Linked DNA regions of Homo sapiens: all the other regions are linked to region 1. The links come from fine-mapping of genetic effects on gene expression. A gene starts in region 1. Each other region holds a variant in brackets. All regions are shown on one strand. Distances are from middle to middle. Region 1 holds the start of MFGE8 (milk fat globule EGF and factor V/VIII domain containing). Region 2 overlaps LOC105370959 (a long non-coding RNA gene). Region 3 has its middle 27 kb from the start of MFGE8. Region 4 overlaps HAPLN3 (hyaluronan and proteoglycan link protein 3).

Evidence for each region.
Region 2: its variant is fine-mapped to the expression of MFGE8 in monocytes (Schmiedel 2018, PIP 0.95).
Region 3: its variant is fine-mapped to the expression of MFGE8 in whole blood (TOPMed, PIP 0.98).
Region 4: its variant is fine-mapped to the expression of MFGE8 in whole blood (TOPMed, PIP above 0.99).

The regions. Positions count from the first base shown.
Region 1 is chr15:88,909,456-88,917,572 of GRCh38, reverse strand. MFGE8 (milk fat globule EGF and factor V/VIII domain containing) reads left to right here and starts at 4,194. Exons shown (of 8, transcript NM_005928.4): 1 at 4,194-4,326; 2 at 7,650-7,781. The coding sequence starts at 4,254. RefSeq lists an enhancer at 4,453-4,984.
Region 2 is chr15:88,364,399-88,372,515 of GRCh38, reverse strand. LOC105370959 (a long non-coding RNA gene) reads right to left here. Exons shown (of 3, transcript XR_932590.1): 3 at 7,860-8,117. Among named protein-coding and RNA genes, the nearest start is that of MRPL46, 99 kb to the left of the region's middle. The variant ATTTATTTATTTATTTT/T (reference allele first, on the strand shown) is at 4,164.
Region 3 is chr15:88,936,363-88,944,479 of GRCh38, reverse strand. No RefSeq gene overlaps it. Among named protein-coding and RNA genes, the nearest start is that of MFGE8, 27 kb to the right of the region's middle. The variant A/G (reference allele first, on the strand shown) is at 4,995.
Region 4 is chr15:88,882,395-88,890,511 of GRCh38, reverse strand. HAPLN3 (hyaluronan and proteoglycan link protein 3) reads left to right here. Exons shown (of 5, transcript NM_178232.4): 2 at 3,167-3,337. The coding sequence starts at 3,214. Among named protein-coding and RNA genes, the nearest start is that of HAPLN3, 9.1 kb to the left of the region's middle. RefSeq lists an enhancer at 4,539-5,250. The variant G/T (reference allele first, on the strand shown) is at 3,917.

The sequences.
Region 1 (8,117 bases):
CATTTCCGTGTGATTTTTTTTTTTTTTTTTTTGAGACAGAGTCTCGCTCTGTCACCCAGGCTGGAGTGCAGTGGTGTGATCTCGGTTCATTGAAAGCTCTGCCTCCCAGGTTCACACCATTCTCCTGCCTCAGCCTCCCGAGTAGCTGGGACTACAGGCGGCCACCACCACACCCGGCTAATTTTTTGTATTTTTAGTAGAGACGGGGTTTCACTGTGTTAGCCAGGATGGACTCGATCTCCTGACCTTGTGATCCTCCCGCATTGGCCTCCCAAAGTGCTGGGATTACAAGCATGAGCCACTGCGCCAGGCCTCCGTATGAATTTTAGTATCAACTTGTCAATTTCCGCAAAAAGGGCAGATGGAATTTTGACAGAGATTGTATTGAGTCTGTACATCAATTTGGGGGTGTACTGGCATCTTAACAATACAAGTCTTCCAACCTATCAACAGGGGATAATTTTCCATTTGTTTAGATCTTCTTTAATTTTTTTGATGATGTTTTGTAGTGTTCAACGTACTTGTATTTCTTTTTCTTTTTTTTTTTTGAGACGAAGTCTCTCTCTGTCACCCAGGCTGGAGTGCAGTGGCACGATCTCAGCTCACTGCAACCTCTGCCTCTCAGGTTCAAGCGATTCTCCTGCCTTAGCCTCCCGAGTAGCTGGGATTACAGGTGCCAGCCACCACACCTGGCTACTTTTTGTATTTTTAGTAGGGACAGGGTTTCGCCATGTTGGTCAGGCTGGTCTTGAACTCCTGACCTCAGGTGATCCACCCACCTTGGCCTCCCAAAGTGCTGGGATAACAGGCATGAACCACCGTGCCCCGCCATGTCTTGTATTTCTTTTGTTAAATTTATTCCTAAGTATTTTATTCTTTTTAATCCTATTGTAAATGGGATTTTTAAAAATTATGTTTTTGGATTGTTTATTTCTAGTGTAAGAAATACAACTGATTTTTGTATATTAATTGTGTATCCTGCAACCTTGCTTAGCTCATTTATTATCTTTAATAGTTGTGTGTTTGTGTGTGTGTGTGTGTGTGTATGTGGATTCTTTAGGGTTGTTTTTTTTTTTTTTTTTTTGAGATGGAGTTTCGCTTTTGTTGCCCAGGCTGGAGTGCAATGGCGCGATCTTGGCTCACCGCAACCTCCGCCTCCCAGGTTCAAGCAATTCTCCTGCCTCAGCCTCCCGAGTAGCTGAGATTACAGGCATGCACCACCACGCTCAGCTAATTTTGTATTTTTAGTAGAGACGGGGTTTCTCCATGTTGAGGCTGGTCTTGAACTCCTGATCTCAGGTGATCTGCTCACCTCAGCCTCCCAAAGTGCTGGGATTACAGGCATGAGCCACTGCGCCTGGCTCTTTAGGGTTTTTGATATACAAGATCATGCCATCTGTAAGTAGAGATAGAGATAGTTTTACTGCCTCCTTTCCAATGGGGATGTATTTTCTGTTTCTTGCGTAATTGTCCTGGCTGGAACCTCCAGCACAGTGATGAAATAGAAGTGATGAGAGCAGAACACCATGTCCTATTCCTGAGCTTAGGGGAAACATTCAGTTTTTCACCATTAAGTATGATAGTAGCTATGGGTTTTTCATATATATACATATATATATATATATGTATATATATATACACATATATATACATATATATATGTATATATATATACACATATATATACATATATATATACACATATATATACACATATATATACACATATATATATACATATATATATACACATATATATATATATACATATATATATATATATACACACTTTTTTTTTTTTTTTTGAGACAGAGTCTTACTGTGTCACCCGGGCTAGAGAGCAGGGGTGCAATCTCGGCTCACTGCAACTGCCGCCTCCCAGATTCAAGCGATTCTTGTGCCTCAGCCTCTTGAGTAGCTGGGATTGCAGGTGTGCACCACCATGCCTGGTTACTTTTTGTATTTTTAGTAGGGACCAGGTTACACCATGTTGGTCAGGCTGGTCTCGAACTGCTGACCTCAGCTGATCTGCCCGCCTAAGCCTCCCAGAGTGTTGGGATTGCAGGCGTGAGCCACTGTACCCATCGGTTTTTCATAGATTTTTAAAAATCAGGTTGAGGAAGCTCCCTTTCACTTCTAGTTTGTTGAGTGTTTTATCACGAAGACGTGTTGGATATTATCAAATGCTTTTTCTGTGATTATTGAGTTGATCCTATATGTCTTTTCCCCATATATATATATATGTTTTTTTTTTTTTTAAGACGGAGTCTTGCTCTGTTGTCCAGGCTGGAGTGCAGTAGCGCGATCTCGGCTCACTGCGAGCTCCGCCTCCCGGGCTCACGCCATTCTCCTGCCTCAGCCTCCTGAGCAGCTGGGACTACAGGCACCCACCATCACGCTCGGCTAATTTTTTTTTTGTATTTTTAGTAGAGACGAGGTTTCACTGTGTTAGCCAGGATGGTCTCGATCTCCTGACCTCGTGATCCGCCTGCCTCGGCCTCCTAAAATGTTGGGATTACAGGCATGAGCCACCACGCCCAGTACCCGCTTCTGAATATTTTAAGAAGGGCATCTTGCCAGTGGACTCTAGTCCCAACTTAGGTCTCAACACAGCTAGGAGGGGAGATGTGTGACTGTTCTATTTTGTTTGTTGGCTAGTCTGACTTAAATACTTATTAGTATTAGTATTGTTATTATTTTTTGAGACAGTCTCGCTCTGTTGCCCAGGCTGGAGTGCAGTGGTGCAATCGTGGCTCACTGCAGCCTCGACCTCTTGGGATCAAGCGATCTTCCCACCTCAGCCTCCTGAGTAGCTGGGACTACAGGCATGCGCCTGGAATATTTTTGTATTTCTTTTTTTGTAGAAACAGGGTTTTGCCATGTTGCCCAGGAAGGTCTCGAACTCTTGAGCTTAAGTGATATGCCTACCTCGGCCTCCCCAAGAGCTGGCATTACAGGCTTGAGTCACCACTCCCAGCCTGAAGCATTATTATTATTATTATTATTATTATTATTATTATTATTATTAGAGACAGAGTCTCACTGTGTCACCCAGGCTGGAGTGCAGTGGCATGATCTCGGCTCACTGGGACCTCTGCCGCCTGGGTTCAAGCGATTCTCCTGCCTCAGCCTCCCGAGTAGCTGGGATTACAGGCACCTGCCACTGCGCCCGGCTAATTTTTGTATTTTTAGTAGAGACGGGGTTTCACCATCTTGGCCAGGCTGGTCTTGAACTCCGACCTCAGGTGTTCCACGTGCCTCGGCCTCCCAAAGTGCTGGGATTACAGGTGTGAGCCACCGCACCCAGCCAAAACACTATTATTAAAATCACTTATTTGTAAACAGGTAATATTTGCACATGATAAGTACAAATCATTTAGTAAAAAGTCAACGGTGACAGGCTTGCTTTGTTTTATTCCCTTTCGGCAAACAGGTGCCCATTTCCTCGCATTTTGTCTATGGTGCCTTTCTTGCAACAAAGGCAGAGATGAATAGCTGCTACAGAGACTCAGGGCCTACATATCAGAGAACATTTTCTATTAGGCCCTTTACAGAAACCTTCGCTGATTTTTTTTTTTTAGTATTTTACCATTTCAGACAATGTTGCTATGCTATCTTTGTATATCTGTCATTTTGCACATGGGAGTTTCTGTAGAATGAATCTCTCTATGTGGAAATGCTAGGTCTTAAGGTGTCAGCATTTGTCGTTTTGATAGGTGTTACCAAATAGCCCTCTAGGGAAGTTGAACTAATTTATACTGTCTTCAGCGAAGCATGCTTGGACCTGTTCCCCACAGCCTCCACTAACCTTGTTAACATCTTGATACTTGCCGATCCGAGAAGGGAAACACGATGCTCATTGTAGTTTTAATTTGCATCTATCTGATTATGAATAAAGAGTTAGCATCTTTTCAAGTCTAAAAATCTTAAAAACAAAACTCCTGAACTTTTCCCGCCCAACAGACTCAAGACTCGTGACCCGGCCGTTGGCACGACGCGGGACGCCGGTGTGGCAGTGGCGGAAGAGGCAGATATCGCGGACCACCCCCGCGCCCCCCAATTCCTTTCAACCAATTCCCTCCCAGCCGCGGAGCCCCGCCCCCAGTCCGCCTCTGGCCAGCTTGGGCGGAGCGCACGGCCAGTGGGAGGTGCTGAGCCGCCTGATTTATTCCGGTCCCAGAGGAGAAGGCGCCAGAACCCCGCGGGGTCTGAGCAGCCCAGCGTGCCCATTCCAGCGCCCGCGTCCCCGCAGCATGCCGCGCCCCCGCCTGCTGGCCGCGCTGTGCGGCGCGCTGCTCTGCGCCCCCAGCCTCCTCGTCGCCCTGGGTGAGTGGATCGCGCCGCCCTCTGCCCCTCGCCCCTCCTCCCCGCGCCGCTCGGAAGTTTGCCCGGCGCCCGCCCTCCACCTCCACTGTTGACAAACTTAGACAAAGCCCCGGGGACCGGGCTGGGCAGAGGGGCGGCTTCTTCCGCTGCGCCCTGGCGGGACAGGGGGATGCGGCCCTGCTGTCTCTGCGCTGGGGCTTTTGGGCTGGGACTCGGGACATCGGGTGACAGCCCTGCCGCCCCCAGGGATGCGGCTTACAGATAATGACAAAGGAATCCGCTGTGTCGGGCCTCTCTTTTCCCTGGTGAAAAATGAGGCCAGGGAACTGCGTTTGACTTTCGAACCCCTTCCACCTGGGAGATTCTAGGACTCTAGTATGGATAAGTCTTGTCTGGATAACTTTGTCCTGGCCATCTCCCTGCCAACTCCAGTTGGCTGGACAGTTCATTGGATTTTTGCGCTCCCAATTGTCCGTGCCTGGTCACATAAGGGAAGGGCCGGGGAGTCGGTGCAATGGACGCAGGCCGTAAGTGGGGCCCGGGAGGGGACCCAGAGGCTTCGAGGAGCTTGGAAGAGGGCTGCCTGCTGATGGGAGTCTCCTGACTCCCTCCCTCCCGCGGCCTTGGCCGGCTGCTGTATCTTCCCCGGTCCTCCTCCGCCTCCCAGGAGGCCTCCGGAGGCCAGCTGGGCCCCTTGCAGGCTGGACTTGCGGATGCCCCGTGCCATTCACCGTGGAGCGCTGGGAGGGAGTCAGGGCCAGGACTCTTTAGGTGGCCCCTCCATCATTTTCTCATAGAAATGGGATTGACTGAAGCAAGGTAGGTAACAGCTGAGCCCCAGCCCTATGTCCTGTGATCTGCCTGACCCTCGGGGCTAGAGCTTCCAGAGTGCTCCAAGCTCCCAGGAACTTGGGAGCTCCTGGCCCTCCCCGGCCACCATGAAAGACAGCTGGATCTTCTTAGCCCCTTTCTACTCTTCCCTGTACCCCCCAACCTGAACTCTGGCCAAATGTTACTGGAAAGTCCCCGAAAGAGCAGGACTCTGAAGTCCCAAAGATGTTTTTATACAGGGTGATGTGGCCTTTTCCAGAAGGAGGAAACACCATACCTATCTTACACACAGGTAACGTGGCTGGGTAGAGTACACCTTTCCCTTTCCCTTTTTCCCACTGGACCGTTTTGCCCTGGAGCAGTGTAGGGAGAGGGCCGGTGCAGTTGGGAGGGAAGAGTCCATTCCCAACCCAAGCCTCTGTCTGTGTCAATGCTCGCCCCCGCCTGCCAGGTCAGAGGAAGGATTACCTGCTATTTAAAGCCAATGACTAATAGCTCCTTGGGAGCCACTTTAAGCTCCTGAGGCCCCTGGAGGGGGAGCTCTGAGGGCAGATCGCTCATTAATGGTGTTGTTGCCTTCCCTGGAGTGGGATGAAGGGGCTTTGAGATTTCAGGAGGACTCTCCAGCCTTAGATGGGTGACTCTGAGGGGGAGGCAAAAAGGTTTTTTTTTTTTTCTTTTTTCTTTTTGAGATGGAATCTTGCTGTGTCGCCCAGGCTGGAGTGCAGTGGCGCGGTCTTGGCTCACTACAAGCTTCGCCCGCTGGGTTCATGCCATTCTCTTTCCTCAGCCTCCCAAGTAGCTGGGACTACAGGCACCTGCCACCACGCCCGGCCCGGCTAATTTTTTGTATTTTTAGTAGAGACGGGGTTTCACCGTGTTAGCCAGGATGATCTGGATCTCCTGACCTCATGATCCTCCCACCTCGGCCTCCCAAAGTGCTGGGATTACAGGTGTGAGCCACCATGCCCGGCCAAGGCAAAAAGATGTCTCATGTCTTGCTCCAAATGACAGATTTGGGTGTAGGGTCTGGGGCAGCCCTTCTGGGATGCTAATGTCGGCTAGAGGACTCCTGTTGGGCCCGGCCGACCCACCAGAGTCAAGGGATTGAGGACAGGCCCTCCTGTTCCTTCTCCTGTGTTCTCCACCACCGGGGCTGATAGTGTACATCTGTCATCCAGGTTCCCATCCAGAAGCCCTGGTGGCCTCTCCAGCCCTTGCCCCCTGGTGGTTCTGAAATCACCCTTCCTTTTCACTCCTCTGCCCTGACTTCCTCTCTCACCATGCTCTCCTGCTCTCCACCTTCACCCTCTTCAGTGGGATTTCTGCATTTCAGCCAGAGGGACCTGTCTGCAGCTACCAGATGCTCCCCACCCTGGGAGAGCTCAGCGGCATGTCTGCACATGGGCCTTTTCAGCCTTCTTCATCCCGCAATTGGAACTGACTTTCCCACTCCCATCTCACACTTGAGAATCTCTGTTTCTTGTTTCTTGTTTTTTATTTTATTTTTATTTTTTCTCCCCCCTGGTGGACAATGGTGAGGAGGGTGAAGGAAGGTTAAAAGCCACTGCTCTACGGGATGAAAAACTAAACTTGTCATTCTTCAGATCCCTCCCAGTCTGGCCCCAGCCTACCCTTCCAGCTGCATCTAACTGTGCTCCAACATACCACACCCTCTGTGCATCTGCTTTTCTTGGAACATTCTTTACTCATTGCCCAGTCTGGCACCCCCCTTACTTTGTCTTCTAGACCCAGCTCAAATATTCCCTCCTCTGGGGAACTTCTAATTCCCCAGCAGAAATCATGCCTCCAGTGACGGTCCATGCAGGCTTCTGGAGCGTTGGGCAATCTTCCTCATCTGTGGACTTGCTGGCCTCTTTCCCCTTGGCTTCTTGAGGCCTGCGCTGCATCTGATTTCTCTGTCTCGGGGGCCTAGCATGGTCATTGGCCCTCCCAGTGTTTCCTGGATGATCATCGTGCTGTTCCTGAGTCAGGGCTGCCATTGGAGGTGACATCTGTGACTGCAACCTGTGCCTGAATTGGTGGGCGGAACCTGCTCAATGGGCCAGAACAATGCTTCCTTCCACTGCCCCTGCCTGAAAGTCCTCATGGGCCTCCTTTGCAATCAAACTGCTGCCAAGAGACCTGCCCTGGACCTTGCCTGCCTCTCCAGACCCCAGCTGCCAGCTCTTCCACCAGTGGGCAGTGGTCCCCAGCACCACTGCCATTGTCAGCCAGCACTTTTCTGGACACTCCCAGGCCACTTGGAAAGCTGGGCGCTTCCCTTATGTGGGCCGATTCGCCTACACATGGACTTCCTTGGCTCTAGGCGGACTCAGGCTCCATCCAGCACACGGGGGAAGAGGGAGAGGAAGAGATAATGGGCGAGTTTGAGTGGAGGGTCCTTTTGGGCTGGACCCATCTGCTACTTCTCACCTGTGTCCCCAGCTCCTTCCTGATCATCTGCTCATCTTACCTGTCTCTGTCCCCAGATATCTGTTCCAAAAACCCCTGCCACAACGGTGGTTTATGCGAGGAGATTTCCCAAGAAGTGCGAGGAGATGTCTTCCCCTCGTACACCTGCACGTGCCTTAAGGGCTACGCGGGCAACCACTGTGAGACGAGTGAGTATGTGGGGGTGCTTGTTGCCTGTTTCTAGCAGTAGACCCTGAGCCACAGCCCTGGTGGCATAGGCCATATGCTGGCCTTATTCTCTGCCTGTGATCCCCACCCCAGTGGAGGTGTCAAGGCCTCCTCTGGGGAGACTCAGAGAGAGAGACAGAGCCTCAGTTAGACCGAGGGGGGAAAAGGGTCCTGTTGTTTCTTCCTTCTTTCTGCCTGGCCCTCTTTCCTGAGACTGCCGGCCAGGCCTGATGCTGATGCAGAGGAGTGAGGGGTTGTGGTCACCCTGGAGGTCACGGGAGTGCTGTTTCTTGAGTCACCATGAGCCAGACACACAG
Region 2 (8,117 bases), 550 kb after region 1:
ACTAAAAATACAAAAATTAGCTCGGTGTCTAATTACAGGCAGGTGCCTGTAATCCCAGCTACTTGGGAGGCTGAGGCAGGAGAATCACTCGAACCTGGGAGGTGGAGGTTGTAGTGAGCCGAGATTGCGCCACTGCACTCCAGCCTGGCAACAGAGCAAGCCTCCATCTCAAAAAAAAAAAAAAAAAAAAAAAAGATGGGGCACCTCCACCCCTTCCCTACTTTTCTTTGCCAGAATTAGGACCCAAATCTAGAACCAAAATGTTAAGATTAAGTAGGTAAAAGGAGAGGCATGGAATGCTGAGTCCTGGCCACCACATTATCTTATCTGGAAAAACTAGGTCTTTGGGGCACGTCAAGCAGTAGACAGATAAATGACAATGGATTTCTTTTCATGAACAAGTAAGGTTCCTCTCTCTGACCTCTCCTTGGTCCGGAGATTCCACATCTTTGAGTGGAAGTCAACAATCCTTTTCCCGGGTCAGATTTTCCAGATATGAAGACCAAGAGGGCCTGGTCATTGTAACAGCCTCTTTCCAGTTGATCACAGACACTGGAGCTTTGAGGGTCTGAAGATCCATGATGAACAGGAGGAGTGTCCACCCGTTAGGCATCTGCCAGGTGGGCTTCCCGCCAACGAATGACCCTCCTTATCACTTTTCAGGAGTACAAATACAAACAGCCTGCACAGGGTGCATCAACTGGGAAAGCCAAAACCACCCAGGACCACCTTACATCTGTCGTAGTGATCTCATGTCCAGCCACTACAGGGACATTATTCTCTGGCACTGCTGCCTCTGCTGCCGGCATCTCTTATCCTTGGGGTAGAGCGCAGGGACAGATTTTCCATCAGTGAAGGGCATGGAGGCTAATAGCACAGATCCTTTTTCCTTGGAAAGTCTTAAGGAGTTGCATATGAGGGTGTGGGGAGGGAACCTAAAAACACACAGATGCAACAAAATCAGATCCCACTGTCCGGAGACCACCAGGCTCATGGCAGCAGCTGAGAAGCTTACCTTCTGGGCCAGAATTTTGGGCTAATGTAAACTGAACTAGAAGGATAAGAGGCCCTGCTCCATGACCTGTTGTGGGATACCGTGATTCAGATACTAGGGCCAAGATGCAGAGGCTGAGAATGGAAAAAGGCTGCAGACATTTCCTTTGCAATGTAGGAAAGCCTAGATTGTGGAGAACCCGGGGCCTGTGGTCTCGGACCCCTCATGGTGCCAGCACATAGTAGGCCATTTAGTATATGTTGCCCAGATGAAACAAGTGGCTTGGCTTGAGGAGAATGCCAGAGGGGGGCTGATACGGGTACCCCCAAACCCAACAGGCAGGGTGGATTAGTTTGTTCTTGCATTGCTATAAGGAACTACCTAAGACTGCGTAATTTATAAAGAAAAGGGGTTTAATTGGCTCACGGTTCTGTAGGTTGTACAGGACGTGTGGTTAGGGAGGCCTCAGGAAACTTACAATCGTTTCAAAAGGCAAAGAGGAAGGAGGCACATTTTACATGGCTGGAGCAGGAGGAAGTGAGAGGCGGAAGGTACCACACACTTTTAAACAACCGGATCTCATGAGAACTCACTATCACGAGGACAGCAAGTGTGAAGTCAGCCCCCTTGATCCAATCATCTCCCACCAGGCCCCTCCCTCAATACTGGGATTACAATTCAACATGAGATTTGGGAGGCGACACAAATTCAAACCAAATCACAGGGGCTTCCCTTCTTCCCATGTTCTGGCTGTGAGAGGTCACTGAGTCTCTTCACTTCTCTGAGGCTCCAGCTTCGACATCTGCAAAGCGGTTCATGATATTGATTTTGTGGGCTTGCTGTGAGGACTCAGTGAGATGACAGGTGTGCAGCGGGGGCACACTGCAGCCCTCATCAAAGTGTAGTACAGTCTAGTGCTGAAAGCCCCGGATTTGGAGTCAGACAGCCTTAGGTCCCATTCTTGCACTGCCCTTCCTAGCTGTGTGACCTTAGGGAAGTTACTTAATCTCTCTGAGCCTCAGCTTTCTCATCTGAAACTGGATAAAACAGTGCCCATTTGTATCAGTTTCCTATTGCTGTTGCAACAAATTATCACAAATGTAGTGGCTAACAAAACAAAACAAATTATCTTACAGTTCTAGAGGTCAGAAGTCCTCAACGGGTCTCACCAGGCTAAAATCGAGGTGTTGGCAGGGCTGATTTCCTTTATGAAGACTCCAGAAGAGAAGCCGTTTCCTTGGCTTCTCCATCTTTCCTTGTGTCCTGCCTTATGGCCTCCTCCATCTTCAAGGTGAGCAATGGCTGGTCTGGTTTTTCTCACATTGCTTCATGCTGATATTCTTCTCTCTCTTTCCTTTTTAGTGATCCTTATGATTACATTGGACCCATCCAGATAATCCAGGATAATTTTTCTATTTTAAAGTCAGCTAATTAGCAAACTTAATTCCCTCTGCAGCCTTAACCACCGCCTCCCTGCATCCACCATTCCCCCATCCCATGTAATATAACATATTCACAGGTTCTGGAGATTAGGATGTGAACATCTTTGGGGGCCATTATTCTGTCTGCCACACCACTTCAGGGTGTTGCTGCAAAGATTAAATAAGGCAGTACACGTAACCCCTGCTGATGTAAGGTAAGAGTATAGCAAACTGTGGCTGCAATCATCATCATCATCATCATCATTTTGCCATTTTAGTCCCCATTCTCTCCTTTGCTTCACAGGAGGAAAGCATAGGCCTCGTCCCTCTGTGAGGACCACCAGGTGTGCTGTGGCAGATGAAGCCTCACAGAGTTTCCAGCATGTCTTGCTGCTGACATTGGGCTCTCTATCCTCACATGCCAGAGCCCAGGACCGTCTCTGCTTGTAGACACGGAGCACAACCTGTCAGGAGGAGGAGACCAGCTTCATCTATCTCCCCCAGCCTGCTGTACTCATTCCACGGATCCTGGCTGGAGAGACGCTCCTGGACGTGTCAGAGCAGTTATGAGGACACGTTTCTGAGAGGCTTGCAGCTTCCTAATGTTCTTCCTGAGTTCGTGAGACTGTAAGCTCAGCCCGACTCCGTTGAAAGATGGGCTAATAAAATGGCTTCTTAGACAATGTGCCTATTAGTAATGCAACAGGATGTTAATCAGGAGAGGGGAGGGGGTGCTCACCACTCTCTTCCAGCTGAGGGAAAGGAACCTGTGGACTCCAGGACACGGGATAGAATGAGGTGACAGAGCTGTGCTGAGAGATCACTGTGTCCTCCAGAATTTGCGTGGCATAGGGGCAGGGACCGACCCTTGCCTAAAAGCATCTAAAGGCTGGAAGTAAATAGAGCTGCCTGTCTGGTAAGAATAGGGAGGGCGGGGGGAGGGGACCTTCCAGATTCCAGTTGAATTTTTCCGTGCCTTAAGAGGGTGGTGGGATTGAAGCCATTTGGAAAGGGGCCCATGCAAGAAGGACCCCAACAAAATGAAGTTGCATGCATTGTGCCACTGGATGTGAGCTCTGGAAGGAGGGGTGAGGCAGTTGCCTGAAAGTACTTCCCTGCACAAGGACATCATGCGGAGAGGTCCCCAAAGCCAGAGGGCAGGGCGTCCAAAACCCCTACAGAGGGCACCAGTGGCAGACTGCAACCATACCACTCATGATAACTTTTTTTTTTTTTGAGATGGAGTCTTTCTCTATTGCCCAGGCTGGAGTGTAGTGGTGTGATCTCGGCTCACTGCAACCTCCGCCTCCCGTGTTCAAGCGATTCTCCTGCCTCAGCCTCCTGAGTAGCTGGGACTACAGGTACGTGTCACCATGCCCGGGTAATTTTTGTATTTTCAGTAGAGAAGGGGTTTCACCATCACCAGGATGGTGTCGGTCTCGTGACTGTGTGATCCACCCACCTGGGCCTCCCAGAGTGCTGGGATTACAGGCGTGAGCCACTGCGCCCGGCTGATAACTTCTTTGACCCTTATTTTCCTTCTCTCCCATCCTCTGTCCCATTCCTAGACAAACCAGGTGCAGCAGGAGTGAACAGGGCAGAAGGTGATACAAGGAGAATGAGGAAAGCCACCACATCTTCCTTCTCCAGTGCAGTTTCCAGGAATAGGGAAGGGAGGAGCTTCAGCTCAAATAAGAGACTGAACTTTATTTATTTATTTATTTATTTATTTATTTATTTATTTATTT[ATTTATTTATTTATTTT/T]AAGATGGAGTTTTGCTCTTGTTGCCCAGGCTGGAGTGCAATGGCACAATCTTCGCTCATTGCAGTCTCCGCCTCCCAGGTTCAAGAGATTCTCCTGCTTCAGCCTCCTGAGCAGCTGGGATTACAGGAGCCCGCCACCATGCTTGGCTAATTTTTGGTATTTTTAGTAGAGATGGAGTTTCACCATGTTGGCCAGGCTGGTCTTGAACTTCTGACCTCAGGTGGTCCACCTGCCTCGGCCTCCCTAAGTGCTGGGATTGCAGGCATGAGCCACTGATCCTGACCTAGACTGAACATTTTCTACCTGACTTTTCCAGATTTTTACTACACACAAAAACTGTTAATATCTAAAAGTAACCAAAGAAAATAATTGTATCTATATATATTATATCATGGGCAGAGAGGAGATCAGTGTTGAGAATTTTAAAAAAAGCAAAGGTGTTCGTGTTTGTAAACCAAGTGAGATTTATCTGATGAGCTGGCTTCAATAATTATCATCCATATCAAGGTGATACTTAAAGAGGCATCCTCACCTCACGGAAGTCTCACCACAGCACTGTGAGGAGGACACTTACTCTACTGCTTCACATTCAACATAACGGAGGCTGAGGCTTAAATGGCACACCAAGGTCACCCAGCTCCTGAGGAGTGGACATTTGATCTCTGGGCGGTCTGGCACAGAATGCCTGCATGAGCCACAGATCTCAGTGGGTGAAGTCACGTGGCAGGTGACTTCCCTTTATGACCTCAATGTCATTTCCCAACATTTAGGGACGGTGAAAAAGAGGGTGTCAGGGAAGGAGGCTGAGCTTGTGAGAAGAGAGAGACAGGGGAGCAGAAAGTTTTTTCTGACCTTTGCTGCATTTTGGTTTGTCTGTCTGCCAAGACTGGGAGTTGTTAGGTTGCCCAGGGGGCATTCTGTGGCGGTGTCAGGGAGTTCTGGGGGACGCAGGATTAAAGGTGGTGTGGCAGCACCTGCTGTAAGAGAGGCATGGTGCAGAACAGAGGCCACGGTGCTGCTCTTGGCGCTGGGACCCAGGGGTCCTCATCCCTGCTTCACGCCAGCCAGCCTGCCAGCCAGGTGACTGTGGGCAAGCCACCCCACCCCCTGAGCCTCAGTTTCCCCATCCAGAGCCAGAAATCCTATCTGACTACCTCCAAGTAGTGGCCACCTGCCCTGACTACCTTGAAGACGTGACCATCTGAGCAAGCCCTTTGTGAGCTCTGTGGCCATGACAAACTGGGACAAACAAATGGCTGGGCCCTGATGTGGGTCTTGCCCTGGTTTGGCAACCCTGCATCCAGACATTCTTTTTACCTGGGAGGATTCATGCACTTGGAGCATCTTGGTGAGAGGCAGAAGCCCACTTCGCACCAGGAGAAGCAAAAGGTGACACTTAACTTCCTCTCCTGGAATCCACGCCTATCACTGCTGCCCCCACAACACACACACAGCCCTCATCTGGGGCCTCGGAGGTTCTTCATCTGCAGGGGCCTCAGTTTCTTCATCTGCACAGTAAGGATAGTAATAGTGTGTCCGGAGTTGGTTCCTTCCAGCGGGTTCGTGATCTTGCTGACTTCAGGAATGAAGCTGCAGACTTTTGTGGGGAGTGTTACAGCTCTTAGAGGTGGTGCGGACCCAAACAGTGAGCAGCAGCAAAATTTATTGTGGAGAACAAAAGAACGAAGCTTCCACAGGGGCTGGCTGGCGGCAGGAGTCTGGGTGGGGGTGGGGGGGGCACCTTTTATTCCCTTATTTATCCCCGCCCATGTCCTGCTGATCTGTCCATTTTACAGAGTGCTGATTGGTCCATTTTACAGAGCACTGATTGGTCCATTTTACAGTGTGCTGATTGGCCCATTTTACAAACCTCTAGCTAGCCACAGAGAGCTGATTGGTGTGTTTTTACAGAGTGCTGATTGGCACATTTTACAAACCTCTAGCAAGCCACAGAGCACTGACTGGTGCGTTTTATAATCCTAGCTACAGAGTGCTGATTGGTGCATTTTACAATCCTCTTGTAAGAGGATTGTAAGACAGAAAAGTTCTCCAAGTCCGCACCTGACCCAGAAGTCCAGCTGGCTTCACCTCTCAATAGCACCTCCCTCACGGGGCTGTGGGGAGAATGAAATGCAAGCCTCTCTCCTGTGCTCCCCACAAATGACTGGAGGTGGCTATGATTAACTTTATTGTTCTGCTCTTGCTAGGATGCTGGCTTTCCCTGCTGGGCTCTGGAGTCTAATCCAGGGCCTTTTCCCATCTCTGAGGCATGGGCACAGAAGGCCTGAGGTTGACTTCCTTGAATGCTTCGGCTTCTCAGTAAAATATGGGTTCTGGCACAAGGAAGCAAGGAGTTCAGGATATTTGGCACCAGATGTGTAAGCACCGAAGTTTTCAGCAGCCTCACATCTGCTGCTGTCAGCACTGGGTCAGTCTTGCCCATCGCTCACTGATGCTTTGTGTTATGGGCACTCTGGCCCCCTACCCTTCCAGCTTTCCTGGGTCAGACCCAGCACATTATCAAGGTCACCTCGGCACCATGATCTGGGGTCCTGGACAGAAGGGGTCTCTATGTGGCAGACTCTCAGAGCGCAAAGAGGCACGAGAGCCCCTTTTTCTGACTTCCTCCTTTACAGATGAGGAGACCAAGTCCACTGAGGGAAAAGAGCCTCAGGATAGTGGAAGTGGGATGGAGCCCAGTCTTTGGACTGCAGGGAAAATCCCTTGGGCCCACACCCTCGGCCAGTGTGTCCTGGAGGCTTGCATTCACACACATGTGTGTGCCTGTGCCATCTCATTCTTCCCCTTTCCTCCTCCTTGACGTTTGTCATGAGCACATGCAAGATGCAGGGATTCCCACCGTCTTCCTCCTTTACGAGCTGTGTATTCTGAAGCTGCACATACCTCTGTTGCTTGCCCGACCCTGGCCCCCCACCCCTCTGCCCTCCCTCTGATTTATCTCTCACGAGACTCCTGGGATGAGCTGCAGCACTGAAGGCAGATGTATGCCCGGAACATCTTCAGCTGACTGCTCGCTCAGGCTGTGATCACTTATAATCACCGGGGGCCTCATCAGTAGATTTCTTTCCTGAGCTTGCAGTCCAGGGTCAGGTGCTTCCGAGAGGTAGCGGAAACAGACAAATCCACAATGGAAACAACCAAGTCCAACCAAAGGAAGGGGAAAGGGCTAGTGGGAGAGCAAGGAGAGGAAAAAATATTTCATTGAGTGACTCTTCAGCCCCAATCTCTCACTGAATTCTCACAGCTGCTCTACAGGTTATTTTCCTCTTTTACAGGCGGGAAGAAATGGCTTCAGAGAGGCTGTGAAGGCCACAGGGCAAGCAGAGGCTGGAACCAGGAGTCCAAACCAGGTCTGTCTGCCTCCAAAGTTCATGAAAACCTCTTTGTCACAGTTCAGTCAAGTTTCTGGAGAAGAATTTAACATGTTTGGGAAAAATCCATTGTATCCATTGTAAGAAGGAAGAGTTTCTCACTTTGTCCTTGATTTTTCTTCTTCAGAAACTCTTTTTCTTTATAAACTGATGTCTGTTTTTCATTTCCTCTTTCTCTTTCTCCTTCGCCACCTCTCTCCTTGCTTTCTCTTTTCACTTCTGTGGCTAAGGTTATCAAATGTCCTGAGTTGAGTTGCTTGTGGAATCCAAGGGCCCACGCAGTCATCTCTCTGGGTAGAGAAGCTGGTGCAAGCAGTGGGCAGGAGGAAGAGGCTGCCTGGTTGGTGTGGGCAGGAAGGGGACAGGCTGGCCTGGGAGGTGCCCCAGCTGCTCCTGGTTGCCTTGGCCTCTGGCACTCCCTAGACTGGGGACCGATGGCCAAATGGAAGAACCAACAGGGTAATGGATGGAGGATTGCCCACCAGGCAGCATGCCAGACATCAGGACACCCTATGCTGCTCTCCGGCTGAAGTTACCCTGGTCCA
Region 3 (8,117 bases), 27 kb before region 1:
GGCTGGTCTCAAACTCCTGACCTCAGGTGATCTGCCCACCTCAGCCTCCCAAAGTGCTGGGATTACAGGCATGAGCCACCATGTCTGACTGACACCTTATAATATTTAGGAGAGATAAATATGAAACCACTTGACCAACGAATCTAAACAATAATGTATGTTAAGAATTCTGAAGACATTTCTAATTTTATCAATTAAAACCAGCTTATTAAGGATTTACTTAAGTCACATGAACTTGAGAAAGCATTTGGGCTTAAAGTTCCTATTTTTCTGATAAAGTTTTTTTTTTTTCTTTTTTTTTTTGAGACAGAGTTTTGCTCTTGTTGCCCAGGCTGGAGTGCAATGGCACGATCTTGACTCACTGCAACCTCCGCCTCCCAGGTTCAAGCAATTCTCCTACCTCAGCCTCCCGAGTAGCTGGGATTACAGGCATACGCCACCACACCCGGCCAATTTTTTGCATTTTTAGTAGAGATGGGGTTTCTCCGTATTGGTCAGGCTGGTCTTGAGCTCCTGACCTCAGGTGATCCACCCACCTTGGCCTCCCAAAGTACTGGGATTACAGGTGTGAGCCACCATGCCTGGCCCTGATAAAGTATTTAAGAGCTTTTTTAAAAAAGTCAATTAATTAGAGCTCTTTTATATATTTTTGGTAGTGAAACATCATATACATGACACATAAATACATGGACTTATTAGACATGCAGATAGAAGCTCATAGATTCATAAGACTCCCCTTTTCAGTCTCCTATTTTAGAGTTCTAATTTCTTGATAATCCGTGTCATTTCCCTAGGCAATTGTCAGCTAGATAGCTCTAAATTTGCATACCAAAGGAACAACTCTAAGTGAAAATCAGAGAGTGAAATTTACATCTCAAAGTACAGACGAAGTCTAGGTGTGTTAGCAGGAGATTAAAAACGGATACCAAGCCAAACATAAAATGATAGAAAAATACCATAGGATTTGATAAGGAGACAAATTTTGTTTAGATAGGTAGTTTTAAATTTACTCTCTATCTTTTAACTGGACCTCTGAGCTCTGGGTGGAGCCCACACTGAATCCTAGTTCTCCAAACAGAGTGACATCATGGGACTAGGCCATGTAATGTGCTTAACGGTGCACTGTTACAAAGATATTTCTCTAAGTGTTTAAACCACACCACTGAGGAGAATTGCTTGAACCAGGGAGGCGGAGGTTGAGGTGAGCCGAGATCGCACCATTGGGCCATGAGACCTAGGTTTGATACCTGACACTGGAAAGGGATTAACCATGAAGACTTCAGGAAGTCACTTAACCTCTCTTCAGCTCAATTTCTTTACTGAGATGCCAATCTACATAGACTAATAATTAGCCTCAGAGGGACTAGCGTATAGTATACATGTAATACATTATTATCATAATTTCTATAGATTGGCCAGTATGGGAAAATAAGAGAAAACTACCTCAAACCTGCCGAAGGAAGTTATGGCAAATTTCCTAGATCTCAATTGTCTTAAGCCAGCCAGGCTGACAAGGGAAACACATTCTATGCAAAAGGAATTACATATGCAAAGAGACAAAAGTATGGAAGATAATGACATGATATTGTATCAGGAACACAACATTGAGGTAACTTGGTCAGGGCATGTCCAGAAGGGTCAGAAGGTGAGCTGGAAAATGTCAGTTGGGGCCAGATCATTACAGAGTACTCCATCTTGAGTATATCACTTAAGAACTTTAAGAAAAGGAATGCAGCTCTCCCTCTCCCTCTCGCTCTCCCTCTCCCGCTCCGTCTCCCTCTCCCTCTCCCCACGGTCTCCCTCTCATGCGGAGCCGAAGCTGGACTGTACTGCTGCCATCTCGGCTCACTGCAACCTCCCTGCCTGATTCTCCTGCCTCAGCCTGCCGAGTGCCTGCGATTGCAGGCACGCGCCGCCACGCCTGACTGGTTTTGGTGGAGACCGGGTTTCGCTGTGTTGGCCGGGCCGGTCTCCAGCCCCTAACCGCGAGTGATCCGCCAACCTCGGCCTCCCGAGGTGCCGGGATTGCAGACGGAGTCTCGTTCACTCAGTGCTCAATGGTGCCCAGGCTGGAGTGCAGTGGCGTGATCTCGGCTCACTACAACCTACACCTCCCAGCCGCCTGCCTTGGCCTCCCAAAGTGCCGAGATTGCAGCCTCTGCCCGGCCGCCACCCCGTCTGGGAAGTGAGGAGTGTCTCTGCCTGGCCGCCCATCGTCTGGGATGTGAGGAGCCCCTCTGCCTGGCTGCCCAGTCTGGAAAGTGAGGAGCGTCTCCACCCGGCCGCCATCCCATCTAGGAAGTGAGGAGCGCCTCTTCCCAGCCGCCATCACATCTAGGAAGTGAGGAGCGTCTCTGCCTGGCCGCCCATCGTCTGAGATGTGGGGAGCGCCTCTGCCCGCCGCCCCATCTGGGATGTGAGGAGCGCCTCTGCCCGGCAGCTGCCCCGTCTGAGAAGTGAGGAGCCCCTCCGCCCGGCAGCTGCCCCGTCTGAGAAGTGAGGAGCCTCTCCGCCCGGCAGCCACCCCATCTGGGAAGTGAGGAGCGTCTCCGCCCGGCAGCCGCCCCATCCGGGAGGGAGTGTGGGGGGTCAGCCCCCCCGCCCGGCCAGCCGTGCCATCCGGGAGGGAGGTGGGGGGGGTCAGCTCCCCGCCTGGCCAGCCGTGCCGTCCGGGAGGGAGGTGGGGGGGTCAGCCCCCCGCCCGGCCAGCCGCCCCGTCCGGGAGGGAGGTGGGGGGGGGTCAGCCCCCCCGCCCGGCCAGCCGCCCCGTCCGGGAGGTGAGGGGCGCCTCTGCCCGGCCGCCCCTACTGGGAAGTGAGGAGCCCCTCTGCCCGGCCAGCCGCCCCGTCCGGGAGGGAGGTGGGGGTGTCAGCCCCCTGCCCGGCCAGCCGCCCCATCCGGGAGGGAGGTGGGGGGGGTCAGCCCCCCCGCCCGGCCAGCCGCCCCGTCCGGGAGGTGAGGGGCGCCTCTGCCCGGCCGCCCCTACTGAGAAGTGAGGAGCCCCTCTGCCCGGCCAGCCGCCCCGTCCGGGAGGGAGGTGGGGGGGTCAGCCCCCCGCCCGGCCAGCTGCCCCGTCCGGGAGGGAGGTGGGGGGGGGTCAGCCCCCCTGCCCGGCCAGCCGCCCCGTCCGGGAGGTGAGGGGCGCCTCTGCCCGGCCGCCCCTACTGGGAAGTGAGGAGCCCCTCTGCCCGGCCACCACCCCGTCTGGGAGGTGTGCCCAACAGCTCATTGAGAACGGGCCAGGATGACAATGGCGGCTTTGTGGAATAGAAAGGCGGGAAAGGTGGGGAAAAGATTGAGAAATCGGATGGTTGCCGTGTCTGTGTAGAAAGAAGTAGACATGGGAGACTTTTCATTTTGTTCTGCACTAAGAAAAATTCCTCTGCCTTGGGATCCTGTTGATCTGTGACCTTACCCCCAACCCTGTGCTCTCTGAAACATGTGCTGTGTCCACTCAGGGTTAAATGGATTAAGGGCGGTGCAAGATGTGCTTTGTTAAACAGATGCTTGAAGGCAGCATGCTCGTTAAGAGTCATCACCAATCCCTAATCTCAAGTAATCAGGGACACAAACACTGCGGAAGGCCGCAGGGTCCTCTGCCTAGGAAAACCAGAGACCTTTGTTCACTTGTTTATCTGCTGACCTTCCCTCCACTATTGTCCCATGACCCTGCCAAATCCCCCTCTGTGAGAAACACCCAAGAATTATCAATAAAAAAATAAATTAAAAAAAAAAAAAAAAAACCACACCACTTATTATCTTAAAATATGCAAGAGTAACCCCTGTACAGGGTAATCACGATTTTGGTAAAAAAAAAAAAAAAAAAAGATCAGGTAACATAAGAACAAGCAGTTGAAGATCTGTAAACCAAAAATAAAGTTCCAAGCTCCTCACCCAACTGAATGATCATTCCTCTTGGCCAAGGGCATTCCAAAATGAAAGTGAAAAACTAGTTCAGCCCATGATGGGAAGCAGGAGTCAGACATGCCCTATTATACCCTCTGACCATTGCAATTCAGGCACCGCTGACCAGCACTAACATCAACACAGACCTTAAGACCGATAGAACAGTCTGATAATAACACTTTCTAAGTCTGATAAGAAACATTTACGATCTACTCTCTCTGAATCTGGACTGAACCAATGTACATCTTATATGTATTGATTAATATCTTATGCCTTCCTGAAATGTGTAAAACCAAGCTGTAGCCCTATGACCTTGGGCACATGTTGTTCAAGACCTCCTAAGGCTGTGTCACAGGCTCGACCTTAACCTTGGCAAAATAAACTTCTAAACTGATTGAGACCTGTCTCAGATACTTTTGGTTTACAGATCTGAGAGGAACTTGTCTGTTTACACTCTTGGGGTTCCATAAGGAAAAACAGAGGTTTCTCCCAAAAAGAAACCTGGCGCCTTCTCTGTTTTCTTAAAGGAATCCTAGGCTGTTAGGAACTATTTATGTCCTTCATGCAGCAGAGGGTGGTAAGAGGAAGGAGAGACAGGCAGAAGTAAATGGACAAAACAGAATTCAGTGGATTGAGAAGAAAAAAACCTTTTTCTCAAAAATCAAGAACCTAGGAGAGAAAAAAGTGTGTGTGTATATATATATGCTTATATGTGTGTGTGTATATATATCTTAGATATTAGCTTTTAGTTAAGCTGACTTAACCATTGAGCTCTTAAAAAATCCTTTTAAATCTCCTATTATCATATTTTTGCTGGGAAAAACTGCTGATAGTTTGAAAGTAACACAAATATCAAATTAGAAAGGACTTGACTTAGGAACCAAACCCAGGCTGTCACCATGTAAAAAACAAGAGGCAGAATCATAGCTACAGAACTACAGCACGGACAGCTGCCATTGCTCTGTCAGTTTGGGCTTGGCTAGCAAAAGGTGGCCTTGTCATGTAAATAAAACTCCTCAGATAGTCAAAATCTTCCCCTTCCCTTTCCCTTCTCTCTCTCTCTCTCTCTCTCGTTCTTTCATTCTCTC[A/G]TTCTTTCTTTCTCTCTCTCCCTCTCTCTTTCTTTTTTTCTGTTTCTTTTTTTTTCAGCTGCAGGGATTTCGCAAATTCAGAGACCTTGTTTCCCATGATTTGGAACTTTCCTTTGGATTTGACCAAGTCAGGTAGAGTTGGTCAAACCCAATGGGAAAAAGATGGAAACTGACTTTACCCTGGGCCTGGAAGCTGGGGGTGGTGGAGGGTGGTGAATAACTCTGCCCTTCTCAGGCCCAGTCCCAAAGTAAAGACCACTTGCGCCAGCGGCATGCGTCAGCAAGATAACAGAAGCAGGAAGCAAGCTAGCTGGCTGGAAGGCAGGTACCCCCTGAAGACCGAGAGAAAGGCTGTCCGGGTACGGCGTAGCAGTTACATCAGACTGAGACACTTCCTGTTTACAGGAGACTATAAAATCTCTGCCCCATCCTCCTTAGGTGCTGAGCCATTTTAGGCCTCAGCCTGTCTGCCCCCACGCGGTGCGCCTTAAAACTGTGTTGCTCTACACCGCCTTGTGTTGTTTGTTGGCGACTCTCGAGGTTCGAACTGATACAAGAGCCATGCAGAAACAAACAAACAAACAAAAAAACAAAAACAGAAAGAAACAAATGAACAAAAATAAGCTAAGAGAAACAAACAATTGCACAGTTCATATGATTACTCAGCACTCTAATGGTAAGGAGAAATTAAGACCAGCTGGCTGTTAATCTTAACTTTTAGTCATTAAAAAGAATTTCCTGGCCGGGCCCGGTGGCTCACGCCTGTAATGCCAGCACTTTGGGAGGCCAAGACGGGCGGATCAGGAGGTCAGGAGATCGAGACCATCCTGGCTAACACGGTGAAACCCCGTCTCTATTAAAAATACAAAAAAATTAGCCAGGCGTAGTGTCAGGCGCCTGTAGTCCCAGCCACTCGGGAGGCTGAGGCAGGAGAATGGCATGAACCCGGGAAGTGGAGCTTGCAGTGAGCTGAGATTGCGCCACTGCACTCCAGCCTGGGCGACAGAGCAGCGAGACTCCATCTCGAAAAAAAAAAAGAATTTCCTAGAGAAAACCCCAATTCAGCTACTTACCTAAGAATGGGGCCCAGGCTGAAAACTGCTACCATCCTAGAAGCAGGAGAAGACTCAAACTTGCCTTCCCTGTTGGAAATGAGCTGAGACTCCCAGAAAGGAGTTGCCTGCCTTCCATTATCATGGAAGCAGGAAAACTCACCTTCCTTGTTGGGAAGCAAGTAAAACTCCAGAAGAGGCATACAGCAGAATGAATCTTACATACAGCAAATGTGCCATAAATCCCTTCTCTGGGAGAGTTTTATGGTCTTGAAGAAGACAGAAGGCCCACTCATACATATATAGACAAACGTTATCACACATTTTCCTATCTCCTATTTGTTCTCCTGAAAACTCCTTGTCTTTCTTAAATAACCTATTTGTTTCAACAGTCTTGCTCTGTCGTCCAGGCTGGTGTGCAGTGGCGTGATCTCAGCTCACTGCAACCTCCAGTTCCCAGGTTCAAGCGATTTTCCTGCCTCAGCCTCCCAAGTAGCTGGGATTACAAGTGTGCACCACTACGCCAAGCTAGTTTTTGTATTTTTAGTAGAGACGGGGTTTCACCATGTTGGTCAGGCTGGTCTTGAACCCCTGACCTCCTCTTGGCCCGCCTTGGCCTCCCAAAGTGTTGGGATTACAGGTGTGAGCCACCGCGCCCAGCCCAAAATAAATCTTAGATCTCAATCAACATTTGGATCAGAGGTTCTATGGAGGGGGGAAGGTCCCAGGCCTTAGAGAATTGTTCTATTGGTTTGAGCAATCAAGATAGCCCAAGCTGGTGCCAAGCACTGAAAGGAGATTTGTCAAACATCCGGGCCACTGCCACTCAGAGTCCCTTCTGTTGGTTGCCAACTTGTAAACCGAAAAATATCTGAGACAGGTCTCAATCAATTTAAGGACATGTTCTTAATCTTGGAAAAATAAACTTGTAAATTAATTGAGACCCATCTCAGATACTTTTTGGTTTACAGGGGAGAACATCCTCGCAGAGCTGAGTGGGGAAAACAGGTTCTGCCTTCTCCTTGTGTCTGCCCCCATAGGAACACCCCCATTTCCATAGCATGGGCTGCCATTTTACAGCTGATGGTTTTCACATCTATCTGTAGGGATCAATTCACTGCAATCTCTGACTCCCTGGTTCAAGGGATTCTCCTGTCTCAGCCTCCTGAGTAGCTGGGATTACAGGCACACGCCACCATGCCCAGCTAATTTTTGTATTTTTAGTAGAGACTGGGTTTCACCATGTTGGCCCGGATGGTCTCGATCTCCTGACTTCATGATCCGCCTGCCTAGGCCTCCCAAAGTACTGGGATTATAGGTGTGAGCCACCACTCCTGGCTACTCCTTGGAGCTTTATTTTCAACTGCCTAGATGGCGTAAGCACCTCAACTTTACCTGCCCAAATGCTAAGATCAAGGGAAGAATGAACTTCCCCCTATTTTCCACCTCCAGATAGTGGCATAGAAGAAGAGCCAGCCCCCACCCGCTAGCCCATGAATGCAATTGTGCATTTATAAGTGGTAATTTCAAAGCCTCTGCCGTTTCTTTGTGTGTGTAGCTGACAGCAGCCTTTAAGAAGTCTTGGCTCAACCTGGGACTCTTTCTTGTTCCTGGCAAGCCCTAGGGTGAGTGAAGTATTAGCTGAGGATTGGAGAGGTTGCCTTACAAACTATAGGGCTCTTACGAATGGTTTCCTTTCCTTTTTAGGGTTAAGCAGTACTATTTCTGAGAAGGAAAGTTTGCCCTTTGGAAATAGGTGGGTGTCTGATTCAGCAAATATAAGCTGGATTATCAGAAAAATGATCTGCAACTCACTTTGCTTGTGAGATTTTGAAGGGGTCTGGACTTCATGCACCAAAGCTCATGTGGCCAAAGGCCACCACACTCCCTGGCAGGAGCCCCCCAGGCATTAATCTAGATTCTAGATTCTAGACTTAGACTTGAGGGTGTACTGGGAAATGAACCTGGCTCACGACCCATGCCTCAGACAGTTCCTCTTCTAAGGTTAGGGTACACTTGGAGAGTGAGGACAGGAGGGGAACAAGGCTAAGAACTGGGACACCCTGAACAA
Region 4 (8,117 bases), 27 kb after region 1:
ATACCAGGGTGAGTTTTATGATCTCCATTTCGCAACCGAGGAAACTTGCCCAGAATCTCGCAGTGAATAAATAGTAGAGGTGGGATTTGAACTCTGATCTTCCAGTTCCCAAACTCTGTACCAGGTTGCCCCATTGTGCTTAGGCCTCCCAGTTCTCCATCACCAAGGGGGCTTACAGGAATCAACAGGGGAATGAATTCCTCTTGGACAAGAAGTGGGGTTTCAGAGTTGGTAGTGTCCTGGCTGCAGTGCACAGCACAGATGGCAGGTCTGGGCCTTGGGATTTCTGTGGTGTCTAAGGGAATGGTGGATTTGGCCTCTCAACTTTCTTTACATCCATTCTCTCCAGCAAGAGCTCCTAACTGTTCTGGAAACAAGAATGTTTCCTCCACAATCCCATCACTCTAACAAGCCAATGCTGTGTGTGTCTGCCTGCCTCCTTTCCTCCCTCCTTCCCTTTCCTTCCTTCCTTCCTTTCCTTCCTTCCTCCCCTTCCTCCCTCCCTCCCTCCCTCCCTCCCTTCCTTCTTTCCTTCCTTCCTTTCTCCCTTCTGTCCTCCCTCCCTTCCTCTTTAAGTGTTTCCTCATCTTCTGGGTCCTGTACACAGGCATTCACAAGACCACATGGTTGCAATCATAGCAGAGGCAATTGTATGTTCTGCTTTGTCTATTTTAACTTACACCCTAAGCATTCTTCCACGTTGCTACATGATAATCATAGTTATGTTTGCAGCTGCCTGCTGTCATTCTGGTCTTGCTGCCCCCAGGTCTACCTTCCACTCAGCCCCTGCAGGGAAGTGTCTTAAGATGTGAGTCTGATCCTGTGACTTCTCTGCTTAAAGCCATCACTGGCCTCCAGGACAAAGGATAGACTTCTGGCCAGGTGTGGTGGCTCATGCCTGTAATCCCAGCACTTTGGGAGGCCGAGGTGGGCGGATCACTCGAGGCGAGGAGTTCGAGACCAGCCTGGCTAACATGGTGAAACCCCGTCTCTACAAAAAATACAAAAATTAATGGGGCATGTTGGCGCATGCCTGTAATCCCAGCTACTCGGGAGGCTGAGGCATGAGAATCACTTGAACCCAGGAGACGGAGGTTGCAGTGAGCTCAGATCTTGCCACGGCACTCCAGCTTGGACAACAGAGTGAGATTCTATCTTTAAAAAAAAACAAAACAGGATATGCTTCTGGGCCTGACACCCAAGGCATCCAGACGCTGGCCCTGGTGACCCCCTTACCTCCTCTCCCCCATGCAGCCAGGGTCTTGGCAGGAAGCAGAATTCAGCCCAGATGATTCCAATAAAGAGACTTTAATGGAGGAATGACTTCTAGAGAGTAGGGTGAGGGGACCCAACAAGGAAGTGGGGGACGCAGAGGCCAGCAGCAGCAGCAGACACTCTATGGCAGAGGCACTGGGGTGGCAAGGGAGCTGGGAAGCAATGCCCCGTCTTCCTCCTCTTCCCTCTCTGCCATCTTCTCTGAGTGCCTCCCATTGGCTCAATCCCACTGGAAGCCAGAAGGCCTGGGGAACTGGGACAACAGGGACCAATACGTGTCAGAGAAGGACAGACGATGGACCTGGTGGGTGTGTGGGGCAAATGGAGGACCTCCTGTATACCCCCAGCACCCCCAGGCTTGGGACTCTTGCTGGCATCTGCACCTTTGTAGTGGCAGTGCCCTACTGGATAAACCTGTCAGTCCTTCTCCACCTGGCAAACTCCTGCATCTTCAGTCTCATTTGGACATTCCCGTTTCTGTACCTCCATCGTGGTACTCAACACACAGCAATCAAGACTGCCTGCCCACGACTCTGCCCCCTCCCTGGACCAAGCTCCTTCAAGGAGTGACCCCATCTTTTAATTGTTGAGAGCACGCAGTAAATGGCAGGTGAGCAGGGCTAGGGTGACATGAGTGAGGCAGTAGCCCTTGGTGTGAGATTTAAGCGGGGGAGGAAGGGAGTTTGCTAGAAATCTTAGTAATCAAGACAAAATATTTGAATACAATATTTAAAAAAAAATCAAATCATCAAACTACAGCCCATGGGTTGGCTACCTCTTTTGAGCGCCCACCCAAACTGGAATAGCTCCCAAGACCTCTAGCATGGTGTTCAAAAATTATTTTTGAGTTGGGCGCAGTGGCTTATGCCTGTAATCTCAGCACTTTGGGAGGCCGAGGCGGGCTGATCACTAGGTCAGGAGATTGAGATCATCCTGGCTAACGCGGTGAAACCCCGTCTGTACTAAAATTACAAAAAATTAGCTGAGCTTGGTGGCACGCACCTGTAGTCCCAGCTACTCGGGAGGCTGAGGCAGGAGAATTTCTTGAACCCAGGAGGCGGAGGTTGCAGTGAGCAACCTCCACTCCAGCCTGGGCGACAGAGCGAGACTCTGTCTCAAAAAAAAAAAAAAAGGGTTCACAATGCAGGACTCATCTTTACTTAACATACCCTCTATTCACCCTGATATTTTCTATTCTAGTCTAGTTTATTTGGCGTCATTAAAAAGTGCTGCTCATACCTTTCTTTTCTTTTCTTTCTTTTTTCTTTTTTTTGAGATAGAGTTTCACTCTTGTTGCCCAGGCTGGAGTGCAATGGCATGATCTTGGCTCACCACAACCTCTGCCTCCTGGGTTCAAGCGATTCTCCTGCCTCAGCCTCCCGAGTAGCTGGGATTACAGACATGTGACACCATGCCTGGCTAATTTTGTATTTTTAGTAGAGACGGGGTTTCTCCATGTTGGCCAGGCTGGCCTCAAACTCCCAACCTCAGGTGATCCGCCCGCCTCAGCCTCCCAAAGTCCTGGGATTATAAGCGTGAGCCACCATGCCCAGCCTGCCCATAACCTTTCAAATTCTGGCTTGAAAAACATTGAGCCTGTCATATCATCCTGCTTAATTTTCTCTGCTTTTAGCTGCCTGATACTTCCTTCTTATGATTTGTCTCTTTGCTGATCTCCCGTCTTGCCTTCGGGGTACAGCTCCCTGAAAGCAGGAACCCCATCTAGCTTGTCACTGCTGTCTTCTCAGCTCCGGGAACAGCGTCTGGCACGTAGGCGGCAGGTGTCCCGCAGTGAGCTGTTGAGCAAGCGAGTGAGTGGTGTTGGAGCAGAGGGGATGTGGGCCCTGGAAGCCAGGCTTTTCTAATTGCCTTGTTTTCCTCCCCTTCCCAGTTTGCCCTGGGGCCCCAGCCTGGCCCGGGTCACCCTGGCATGAGGAGATGGGCCTGTTGCTCCTGGTCCCGTTGCTCCTGCTGCCCGGCTCCTACGGACTGCCCTTCTACAACGGCTTCTACTACTCCAACAGCGCCAACGACCAGAACCTAGGCAACGGTCATGGCAAAGGTAGGCGACCTCCTGCACCCGGCTCTTTGCTCCCCTGGGTGACCTAGACCTCCTTGGCTCTTGCTGTGATCTGAGGGTTCCAGGCTGGGACAGGGACAGCAGCCCTGTTCCAGCAGGGCCCTTGTAGTGGGCCAGCTTGCTTCTCAGACAGGGGAAGGGGTGAGTTCATTTTCCTGTGTTCGCCAGCCCCTTCGTCATGGGGCCCAATTCACTTAGGCTTTTTACTTTCCCTAAAAGTCTTGCCAGTTGTTCAAGGTCCAGCTTGAATGTGTCCTCCCCTGGTCCCCCCAGTGGAAAGGGGACCTGGGGTCGAATAGATGTGAGTTTGAATGTTTTTTTTGTTTGTTTTTGAGATAAAGTCTCACTCTGTTGCCGAGGCTGGAGTGCAATGGCACGATCTCGGCTCACTGCAACCTCTGCCTCCCGGGTTCAAGCGATTCTCCTGCCTCGGCCTCCCGAGTAGCTGGGATTACAAGCATGTGCCACCATGCCTGGCTACTTTTTGTATTTTTAGTAGAGAAGGGGTTTCACCATGTTGGCCAGGCTGGTCTTGAACTCCTGACCTCAGGTGATCCACCT[G/T]CCTCGACCTCCCAAATTGCTGGGATTACAGGCATAAGCCACCATGCCTGGCCCGAGTTTGAATCTTATAATTCTACCTCTTACTAGCTGTGTGGCCTTGGGCAGGGAACGTTTTAAAGTAGCAGTTATTGTGCACCCAACATGGGTTGGGCGCGCTTCTAGATATTTTGCATATGTCGTCTCCTGTAATCACAAAAGCCCTGATGTAGGCAAGGGTGAAAATATACCTTTTTTTTTTTTTTTTTAAGATGGAGTCTCACTTTGTTGTCCAGGCTGGAGTGCAGTGGCGCGATCTTGGCTCACTGCAGCCTCTGCCTCCCAGGTTCAAGCGATTCTCCTGCCTCAGCCTCCCAAGCAGCTGGGATTACAGGCATCTGCCACCACACCTGGCTAATTTTTGTACTTTTAGTAGAAATGGGGGTTTCTCCATGTTGGCCAGGCTGGTCCTGAACTCTTGACCTCAGGTGATCCACCCGCCTCAGCCTCCCAAAATGCTGGGATTACAGGCGTGAGCCAACGAGCCTTGCCGAAAATACACATTTTTAACCATTAGTGCAGCACGGGTGCTGACCAGGCTGAATTGATGCTGTCTGCCCTCACAGCCTGAAAGTAGATTCTATTATCATCCCTTCTCATAGATGAGCAAACTAGGCTCAGAGAGTTGATCCAGTTGTCCAGGTCAAACAGCTATTAAAAAGACAAAGCTGAGGGCTGGGTGCAGTGGCTCATGCCTATAATCCCAGCACTTTGGGAGACTGAGGTGAGTGGATCACTTGAGGTCAGGAGTTCAAGGCCAGCCTGGCCAACATACCGAAACCCTCTACTAAAGATACAAAAAATTGGCCAGGCGCGGTGACTCACACCTGTAATCCCAGCACTTAAGGAGGCCGAGGTGGATGGATCACGAGGTCAAGAGATCAAGACCATTCTGACCAACCTGGTGAAATCCTGTCTCTACTAAAAATACAAAAGTAGCCGGGCGTGGTGGCAGGTGCCTTTAATCCCAGCTTCTCAGGAGGCTGAGGCAGGAGAATTGCTTGAACCTGGGAGGCAGAGGTTGCAGTGAGCTGAGATCATACCACTGCACTCCAGCCTGAACGACAAAGTGAGACTCCGTCTCAAAAAAAAAAAAAAAAACACAAAAAACAAAAAATTAGCCGGGTGTGGTGGCGTGCACCTGTAATCCCAGCTACTCAGGAGGCTGAGGCATGAGAATTGCTTGAACCTGGGAGGAGGAGGTTGCAGTAAGCTGAGATCACACCACTGCACTCCAGCCTGGGTGACAGAGTGAGACTCTGCCTCAAAAACAACAACAACAAACTTGTTCCACTTGTTTGTGGAAGGAACGAACCAGATGGCTGGTCTCAGTAATAGCCAGCACCTGCCATGAAGAGCGCACAGCCTGGTTCAGAGACGACACATGAGCCTGCAAGTGCAGTGCTGGGTGTTTCTCACCTTTCCCTCTGCCTTTGAGTAGATGATTGTGCCTGCAGAGGCATTTTCCCTCTTTTGATTAGTCTCCTAGGTCAGCTGTAACAAATTAACACAAACTTGGTGGCTTGAAACAACAGAAATGTATTCTCTCACTGCTTTAGGCACCAGAAATCCAAAATTAGTTTCACTGTGCAGAAATCGAGGTGCGGATAGGACTGTACCTCCTGTGGCTCTTGGGGAGAATCTGTTCTTGCCTTGCCTCTTCCGGTTCTGGTGGCTGCTGGCATTCCTTGGCTGTAGCTGCCTCACTGCAGGCTCTGCCTCCTTGGTCACGTGGTCTTCTCCTCTTTTATATGCAAATCTCCCTCTGCCTCCCTCTAAACAGGTACTTGCGCATTTGCATTTAGGGCCCACCTGGGAAATTCAGGATACCCTCCCCATCTCGACATCCTTAGTTTAACCTCATCTGCAAAGTCCATTTTGCTACATAATTAGGATTTAGGGTATTTTGGGAGGCCATTATTTAGCCCACCACACCCTTTTCCTTCAGAATTTATTTTGTTATACAAGCCCTACTTTATTTATTTATTTATTTATTGAGACAGAGTCTCGCTCTGTCACCTGGGCTGGAGTGCAGTGGCGCGATCTCGGCTCACTGCAAGCTCTGCCTCCTGGGTTCACGCCATTCTCCTGCCTCAGCCTCCCGAGTAGCTGGGACTACAGGCATCCGACACCATGCCTGGCTAATTTTTTGTATTTTTAGTGGAGATGGGGTTTCACCGTGTTAGCCAGGATGGTCTCGATCTCCTGACCGCCTGATCCGCCCGCCTTGGCCTCCCAAAGTGCTGGGATTACAGGCGTGAGCCACCGTGCCCGGCCTACAAGCACTACTTTAATGAGATTTGCGGAATTTAAAAAACTTAAACTTCCTACTCATAGTTTCACTACACTACCAGGCCAACATTTCATTTTTGTCTTTCCCTTTTGTCCCTGAATATGTAAGCAAAGTCATATATAATCCCCCCACCCAGGGGAACCACTGTTAACTTTTTAGGTATCTCTTTCTAGCCTTTTCTTTTTTTTTTTTTTGAGACAGGGTCTCACTCTGTCACACCAGTGCAGTGGTGTGATCTCGGCTCACTGCAACTTCTGCCTCCTGGGCTCAAGAGATCCTTCCACTTTAGCCTCCTGAGTTAGCTGAGACTACAGGCGTGCACCACTGTGCCCAGCTAATTTTTGTATTTTTAGTAGAGATGGGGCTTCACCGTGTTGGCCACGCTAGTCTCGAACTCGTGGCCTCAAGTGATCTGCCCGCCTTGGCCTCCCAAAGTGCTAGGATTACAGGCGTGAGCCACTGCACCTAGCTGAGCCATTCTTTTATGATTTAGAAAACTTTCTCCAACAAAAACCAGCTCATGTCATACATGTGATTTTTGTATTCTCCCTTATCACCTCATAGAATAGAACTCGTTTTCTAAGTCAATGATTGAATGTACATCTACCAGATTATTTTACATGGCTGTATAGTATTTTATCATATGGATGTACATTTTCATTTTATTCAGGTTAAAGCTTCAAAGGTAGTTTACTTAAGAGAGTTGGGAAGAACCAAGGAAGTGGCCCCTAAATGATAGCCCTGCTTCATATTTATTGGACACTTTCTGTGTGCCAGGCATCCTGCCTTACCTGATTTGAACCTTACCACAGCCCTCTGTAGGGACTGTAATTAACCCATTCTACAAATGGGGAAGCTGAGTCTTGACTTCCCTGGATTACACAGCTGGGAAAAGGTGGAACCAAGGGCAAGCCCGAATTGCCTGACTCCAAACCTCTGTACCTACTGCCTCTGCAGAGCAGGACAGCTCTAATCTGAATGAGCCTGAAAGTCCCCTGGAGGCTGGACCCCATTCCCAGAGTCTCTGAGGCACTGGGACCCCACAATGTGCATTTCTGACAAATTCCTGGTGATGCTAATGCTGCTGGCCCGAGGGCCACACTTGGAGACTTCTGCATATGGCAATCTGCTACATTAGGTATAGCTCTTTTTTAGCACGATTCCTCTACAGGGAACCTCCCTGTCTGTCTCCTGCTTACCCATGAGGCTGTCCCCTTGCCTCCACCTTTTTAATTAATTAATTTGTTTTTATTTTGTTTTTGGCAACAGAGTCTTGCTCTCTCACCCAGTTTGGAATGCAGTGGTGCGATCATGACTCACTGCAGCCTTGACTTCTGGGCTGAAACAATACTCCCACCTCAGCCTCCCGAGTAGCTGGGACCACAAGCATCTACCACCATACTCAGCTAGTTTTAAAAATTTTTTTGTAGAGACAGGGTCTCACTTTATTGCCCAGGCTGGTCTCAAACTCCTGGGCTGAAGCGATCCTCCTGTCCTGGCCTCTCAAAGTGTTGGGATTATAAGCGTGAACCACCGTGCCTGGCCCCTGTCCCCACCTTGAGTAAATCAAGCATGTCTTGAAGTCTAGACCCAAGAGAATGAATCAGTGAGGTCCCAACAGGGGCTCCCAAGTTAAAGATGAGGCAGCCTTAGCCTATGAACTTGATTCTTTTGTTGCATGTTGAGTTCTGTGTGTATTTGTAACTCTGAGCCGTGAGCGTAGTCTCCTTTAGAAGTTCTGCCCTTAGCTCAGTAGGCTGCTCCGTATTTGGGAAGAGTTATGGTGGACAGCTGGACCAGAGAGTAAAGCCAGGGCTGTGCTGTCCTCTGGCCAGTGTGGTGGGGAAGGAAACTCCGACGGATCCCTATCAG